Linked DNA regions of Homo sapiens. The protein of the gene in region 1 purifies or fractionates together with the protein of each later gene. This does not show direct contact. Each region holds a gene or a part of one and is shown on either strand. Other genes may lie near its edges. The genes, in order: ZNF385A and LIN28B.

Region 1 (3,821 bases):
AAACCTATGGAAGAGTTCTAAATGGGGAGAGGCCTAGCAATCCAGTCAGTCAGCATCCTCTTAGACCCCAAGGCTATGTGCCCAAGTCCTCTGCCCCTAGGATCCAGCCTTTGCTGCTTTCACCCTGAGGCTGGAAGTCCCAGGATCCCTGATGCCTGGGCTCTGTCCTGACTACTTCCCCTTGGGTCTCATTTTCCCTGAAGCCTCTGTGGACACCCTGGAGGACCCTGGCCCCGAGCCCAGCTCTGGGGACAGAAAACAGCAGTGGAGACAGCTGTCAAAACAGAACCATTTGATGGGGGAGGGGAGGGTAGGGCAAAAAGTGGGAAGGGCTATCTGCTGTTGGCTCCCTGCCCCTCTAGTCTTCCACCATCCACCAGTGAGTGGAGCCAGGGTTGATAGACAGGATGCCTGGGGTCCAAGCTAAAGCAGAGGCCTGATGCTGGGTTAGTCCTGTCTTCCCTTCCCCACCCTGCTCCACTCCCATGTATACCCCTGCTAAGAATGTACCATCCTGGAGGCACAGGGTCACCCAGACAAGGGCAGAAATAAAAGGTGTGGATAGGCAGGAAAAGAAGATTGACAGCCCAGGGGTAAAGTAGCAGTGTGCAGAGCCCAGTAGTATGGAGTGTGTGTGTGTGTGTGTGTCTCTGTACTGGGTAGAGAAACAGAACATGCTTTTATTTTCCCCTACTCAGCAGAACGAGGCTCTGCTGTTTTTCTCCAAAAGCTCTCAGGGCCTGCACCCCACAAAGTCCCCTCTAGAGCCACACACACTCCACAGAGTCCCAGTGGAGCCTCAGAGGGAGGAAATCTGGGAGGCTGAACATCTGGGTTTTGGGTTTGGGGTAGCTTCTCCCCAGGGGAAAGCCCCATGGGATAAGAGTAGGGGCCAGGCCTTGTGTGTGATTTGGAGGGAGGAGAGTAGAAATGGGGTGGAGAGAGAAGGAAGCCAGAAAGTTAGAGCGAAGTGGGTGGGCCAAGGAGGAGTTTAGCAGAGGCCAAAGAGGACAGAGGCTCTGTGGGGGAGCCAATGACCTAACTCTGCCCCATACCCAAGAACCAGTGGGCCAGAGGCCACACTCCTGCTCAGACACTGATGGCCACCTATGTTCCAAGAAGCTCTGAACCACGGATGCCCAAGTCTCAAGGGAGGGAGAGGTCAACTTTAGAGGACTGATCTACTTCATGTCAAAATACACAGCAACTTCTTGTGTCTCTCCAGTGCCTTCCACAAGACCCTGCCCCTCCTGCGGTATCCCCATTCCCTGCTCTTTGCCTAATATCCCCTTAATCCCTGCCCCTCAACCAGAGTAAGTGTTCTCACCCAGCCTCTGCCCTCCCTCAAGTTCCCCTGCTGCCCCTGCCCCACCCACTGGGTAGATGAGCAGCTTGGCTTCTTACCTGAGAATTGAAGCGGATTTGACAGATATTACAGGAAATGACGGGCCGCTTGGTCTTGAGCAAGGGTCCCCCAAAAGTGTGGGAGAGCACAGCCTTCTGCACAGGGTCCATCTGTGGAGGCAGGCTGGGGTGAGCCGGGAACCCTAGCGCAACTCATGTCCAGCATTCCCCCAACACAGATATCTGTGTTGAACCAAGGTCCCCAGACCCCTTCTATCCCTTAATATGCCTGAGGGATCTGAGCCTCAGTCTTCTGATTCTCTCTTAGCCCAATCTTCATAGCACTGAAAGGGACCTGATCGATAACTGGCCCAATGCTCCCATTTTACAGGACATAGAAGTGGTTTGCCCAACGTCACACCATGAGTTAATAGCAGATCTGGTATCTGAACCTGGATTCCTGCCTTGGTCCATCATACCATGAACATACAACTGTGTCACCTTGACTTATCTCCTACAGTGAAGCCAATCCACCAGAGGCCTCTGACATGAAGTCCCAAAGCACCCTAGATCCTAGGGCCTTCAGCTGAAGCCTCTGAGCCCTTTGGGCCTCCACTCTGGGGTAAGACTATCACCAAGCCCAGCCTCTAGTCCCAGGAGACAGATGTTCCCAGCCTCCCAACTCTGGATCCCTGGTCGCCCTAACACACACACTCTCTGGACCTCTTAAGGGCAGCAACTTCTAGAGGGAGTAAAAGAACTCAGGAGAGAGTAGGAGCTCTAGTGAATCATGGGGACTAAATGGGGGGACCTAAGCAGCTGGGCTGGCCCGAGGCAGCCCAGGGATCTTCTGAACCTTTTCTCCCTGATCATCAGGGTTTCTAGGGCAGAGCTGTGGGGCTGGGCGGGATTAGGAACCATCCCTGTCCCCACCCTGGGTCAGCAGACGTCTTTGCAGTCTCCTGCCAAGAGTTCACATGAGTAAGGGAGAGGACGGGAGTTTCTCTGAGGCTTTCTGCTATCAGGGGATGAAAACCAGGGGCTCAGAGGTGTGAAAACTGCCTCCCTCAACAGTTCTCCTCCCTTTTGGCCTCTAGGCAGCTAGGGAGAGGAAAGCCTGGAATGCAGCTGAGACTGAAGATTGGGGGATGGCTGGGCTCTCTCATAAGAATGGGACTGAATTAGGACAAAACCTTATCTTCTGGGTGGAGGGATCAAGTGAAAAATAGTTGCTGGGGACTTGGGGTCCTTATCTCCTCAGCCGAGCCCATCTCTGTGACAGGTCTTTAGGGTTTCCAATGAGACACTGGTGAGAGAACAAGAAGTGGGGGAAAGTAGTAAGAGTCTGGAAAGCCCTGTCCTCTGGACTCTCCTTTCCTCTCACCAGTAGTTTCACTGGCTGGGTGGGGTTAATGTCAGGAAATGGGCTTTCGTATCCCTGTGAAATAGATGGTGGCCTCATCCACTCTCCATTTGGGTAGTGCTGAAGGCAGGGACCAGGACTGGGTTCAGACAACTGGTCTGACTGACAAGTGTCAATCTCTTGGCCTACTCTTGGTTGGAAAGAAGCCTCTCTAAGGGCTCACTTTTTTTTACCTCAGCTTCCCAGAAGCCCCAGTCACATCCAGGGAAAAGCCAAACAGGAGAACGGGTGTGTCTGTGTGTGTTAGGCAGGCTGTGATCAATCTGTGCATGGGTGGAGTGTGAATAAGTGTCATGTACTGTGCGTACATCATTTATATATCAACATTTCTGCGTCGGGGGCTTTGATGGCACCATGAATGGTCAGGTGGTGTAATCTTCAGCTGTGTGTTTATCTGTGTAAATGTATGATGTGTTTGGCAGAAAGAAAGACAGACCAAGTTGGAGACAGTCTTTAATCAGAAAGGGGAGACAGACTGCTGCTCTCAGTTCCCAGTCTCCAGGCCTTAATCCTTCCTATTTAGAGACCCCCAACTCTGTTCCAGAGTTCTCCTCAGCCCTGGGCTTCCTCACATGCTGGGTGGGGAATGGGAATTCAAACAGAAACTCAAGTTGGGCCAGGAAACCCAAGTTGGATGAAAACAGTAGGGAGAGAGGAGTGGGATGGAAGGGGGAAGCAGAGTCTCCTAGTTCTGCCTATGCTCTGCCCCATCATGCCAGCCTGCTCTCCAGAGGGGCTGAGGACACAGTACCCCGAGGATGACTTGTGGACTGGCCACCCCAACATCCATACCATGAGAATGGTTCCTGCCCTACCTGGGTCCTTCCTCCAGGGTGAGAACCTTAGCTTTTGCACAACCCCCTCCCCTGGTTTAAGTCCATAAACACCAACTAGGAGTGGGAGTGGGGAGTGGGGAAGAGGGCAGCAGTGGAGTCAGGTGGGTGCTTCCCACCCTCCTCCAGGAACTAAGGAGACACCAGGATGAAAGTGAGGACTCCTGGGCCCAATCCCTGTGCAGGTGGAATGTGAGCCACTGAAGTGCTGCTCCAGGCCA
Region 2 (3,821 bases), on another chromosome or scaffold:
TTGGAAAGGATTTCTGAAAATGTTTTCATCTTACTGCATTTCATATTGTCTAGCCAAAGGAAACCACCATCATGTAGAATATATTAAATATCAGAAATATAGGCTATCTTGCAGTTTGAATTATCTGCAGAATGTACTGAACTGAGCCTTCAGCATTAAGCACTGAATAGTTCCTTGACCACCTTTTCCACCAGACTGTTCTGAGACCCCAGTTGAGGAGTTGAAGTTCCCAATAGATAGAGGTGCCCCTTTTTACACCCAGAATTTGCCAAACACCTCACCTCTTTTTTCAAATGAAAATGTACCTATTGTTTTGTCTGTTTTTGAAAGACAGCTCACGTATAGAAAGTCCAAATAATATAAAAACCGTAAAGAGGAAAAAATCACTTGAAATCCTAGAGGTGGGAATTATAATATATATGGTATTTTGAAACTTGTAATTTTTTTCACCTAATAGTATATTATAGAATATTTCATGTCAATTGTTATCACTTCATAAATTTTACTATTTGAATGTACCAAAATATAATTTAAAGAATAATATGTTAGTGGATATTTAGGCTACCTCATGTATTTTGAATTGATCAATAACACCACTGTGGGAACTCTTAGATGTACATTTTTGAAAAGTTGTCTGATTATATCTTTAGGGTAAATACTTAATAGTGAAAATCTGGATCAAAAAAATATGTATTTTAAAAATTTCAATACCTAGTTCTAAACTACTCTCCAGAAATGATTAGCGGGCCAGTATGTAACACCTCTGAAAGTGAGACAGCTCATTGAATGTTGTCTTTTTAAAATCTTTTCCAGTTACATAGGTTAGAGATGTAGCTCATTGTTTGTTTGTGGTTTTTTTCACATTATTTGATTACTTTGGAGGTTGAATATATTTTATATGTTTTCATTTTTTTCTTCTAAGAATTGTACATTTCTTGTCCATTGACCATTTTCTATTGAGATGTTTGTTTGTTATTATTGATTTCTAAGTTCTCTTGATATATTTAGGATATGAATCTTTCTTCTCAAATAAAAAATAAGAAATTTTTTTAGCTTATAAAATATATTTTATCTTTAATGATAGTTTTTAAAAAGTATTTTGAAGTTTTGAATTTTTTACAGACAAGTCTGTGACTCTCCTTGATGTTACCTGACTTTATTTCATTTTCCAAACTACAAAATTAAAAATATGCTATATTCATTTATGTTTTTAGTATTATTTTAGTTAATTTATATTTTACACTTAAGTATCTCTTCTCTTTATAATCTAATTTGCTTTTGAAGAAAGAACTGTAAAGGTCTAGGTTTTCTTTTCTCTCCAAATTGGTAACCAGTTATCTCTGTAGCACTTGTTGCCTATTTCATATTTTCCTATTGGTTTGAAAAGCTATCCAGTGAAACAATAAATTCCATTTTCATTGACATTTTTAGGAGCTCATTTTGTACAAAAGAAAGTCCATGAATGTGTGTGAAAGTTTAATGATACACTTAGCTATTAAAGTGGTTTTCTGCTCCCATGGAGATAATACCTGCATACATACTTAAATACGTACAAGTAAAGCAAAGTAAAATAAAACAGCCCTTTATTTTTCCATGTCTTTTAGATAAAATCTTTAACAAAGTAGTTCTAGAATGCTTTACATTCCAATTCTGGGTTGGAATCAGTATGTGAGGGAGAATAGTGGAGGTTGAGATTTGAAGAGTAAGATGGCAGGACATTTTTTCATATTGGATCTTGTCAACCATTTTAAGGACTTTGATTCTGGAGAAAATAGGAAGTCATTGGGAAATTTTAGGTTGAAAAGTAACATGATCTGATTTACTCAGAGTATCATTCTGGCAGCTGCAATGACAGCACAATGTGGAGAGGCAAGGATAGAAGCTGAAAGACCACTAAAGAAGAAGTTCCAATAATACAGAAAAGAGCTAGTGGTGGTTTGGACAAGGGTAGTAGCAGTAGAAGTGGTGAACAAAAATTCTGATATGTTTTGAAGGAAGAGACCATAGAATTTACTGATGGATTGATTAGATTTGGACTATCAGAGGAAAAGAGTCCAGGGTGACTCCAAGGTTTTTTGGCCTATACAACAGGAAAGATGAAGGGACTATTTATCAAGATGGGGAAACCTACAGAAGGAGCCTGAAATCAAAAGTATAGTTTCAGACATTTAATTAGAGATACATAATGCACATCCAAGTGAAGATGTATATTAGGCAGATGGATGCACTATATGGAGTTCCAGCACTGGAGTTAAAAAATTGGCAACATTTAGCAAAAAGATGATATTTACAGCCACAAGAGGAGATAAGATCACCATCACAGTGAGTATACATAGGTAAGAAGAGGACTAAGCCCTGGGGCACTCTAGCATTTAAGAGTCAAGAAGAGGGAGGAACAGCAAAGGGCACTAAGTAAGAAGGTGGGAAATAGGAGGGAAAGTCAGGGAAAGAAAATATTTCAAGAAAGGGTATCAGGTATGTTAAATGGTGCTGATGGTGAAATGATCAAGTAAGATAACCATTGAAACTTGACCGCTTAGCAACACGGAAGTCATTATTGAGGTCTGAGGTTGACAAGAACGGGCTGAGTGGACTGGTGGGGGTGAAAGCCTTCGTGGGTTGTGTTCAATACAGAGAATGAAAACAGAGGAAGCAGAGACAGCAAGTTTAGACAATCTTTTGAGAAGTGTTTCTATAATAAATGGGAGGAAAGAAACAAAGCAGTGGCTAAATGGAAGAAATTATAGCATGTTTATATGTTCATAGGAATGGTCTAGTGCAAAGGAAAGATTGAACATGCAGGAGAGAGGAGAACGATTACTGGAGTGATTTCCTTGAGTGGGTGACAGTATTGGGATTTAAAGCACAACTGGGGGAGCTGATCATGTGAGTACAGAAGGTTCATTCTTACAAACCTGGAGGAAAGGCGTAGCTTATGGGCACAGATGCAGGTGGTAGATAGATATGAAGGTAGGATAAGGCGAGATTTCTCTTTTTTATGCTGGTTTTTTTTTTCTTTGAATTTGAAGCACGGTCATCAACTGAGAGTGATGGTAGAAGAGTAGGTTTGGAAATTTAACAAGAAAGACGTATAAAATAGAAGAATGAACACATTATAGAAAAGAGGTAGAATTTCAGGCTGTGCCAAAGACCCACATAAGAATAGTGGGTACGAATTTAAAGTCAGTTAATGTGATTGTGTTTTTTCTCCAGCCATTGTTGACTTCATGGCTACAGCTGTAAAACAGTCATTAAAATGATTTAACTAGAGTTGAGGTTTTTCCTAGTTGAGAATGACAAAGGGCACTGGAGATGTATGCAGGGCAGCAAATGTAATGATGGATGATAGAATATAAACTGTATAAAGAGTGAAGACATTGAAAAGGTGGTAAGTAAACACATGGGGTGTGGGTTGCAGTGGAGTCAAAGAATTATAGTTGGGGTACTGATCTGGCAAGGTACGAGGTGGTGGTGGTCAGAAGTGAATAACTGTTCCAACTCCTTACTCTTACTGTGTGTCTTATTGTAATTAAAGCTTTGACACACTTAATATCTAATAATTTCCAACTTTCTATTAAGCTAAGGGTGTCCATAATTTTTGTCACTAGGATTAGCAATTCCAGTTTTCCATGTGCTGCTTGTTTTTACAAAATGGTGTAGAGACAACATACAATAAAATATTCAATAAACATAGAGACTCCTGCATAGAAACTGACACCATGAGAAAACAAGATTTGACAGTGTGGTAGCAAGAAATGGATCTTTGTCAGCTGATGGCTGGAACAGTTACCAAGGCATGATTTGCTCCCCAAATGTTTAAA

Evidence for each region.
Region 2: the proteins of ZNF385A (region 1) and LIN28B purify together in Homo sapiens (co-immunoprecipitation; one large-scale study listed by IntAct). This does not show direct contact.

What each region holds. Positions count from the first base shown.
Region 1 is NC_000012.12:54,374,440-54,378,260, forward strand, and holds part of ZNF385A (zinc finger protein 385A), read right to left. Parts: intron 1,516-3,821; coding exon 1,405-1,515; intron 1-1,404. UniProt on the Homo sapiens protein: RNA-binding protein that affects the localization and the translation of a subset of mRNA. May play a role in adipogenesis through binding to the 3'-UTR of CEBPA mRNA and regulation of its translation.
Region 2 is NC_000006.12:105,026,523-105,030,343, forward strand, and holds part of LIN28B (protein lin-28 homolog B), read left to right. Parts: intron 1-3,821. UniProt on the Homo sapiens protein: Suppressor of microRNA (miRNA) biogenesis, including that of let-7 and possibly of miR107, miR-143 and miR-200c.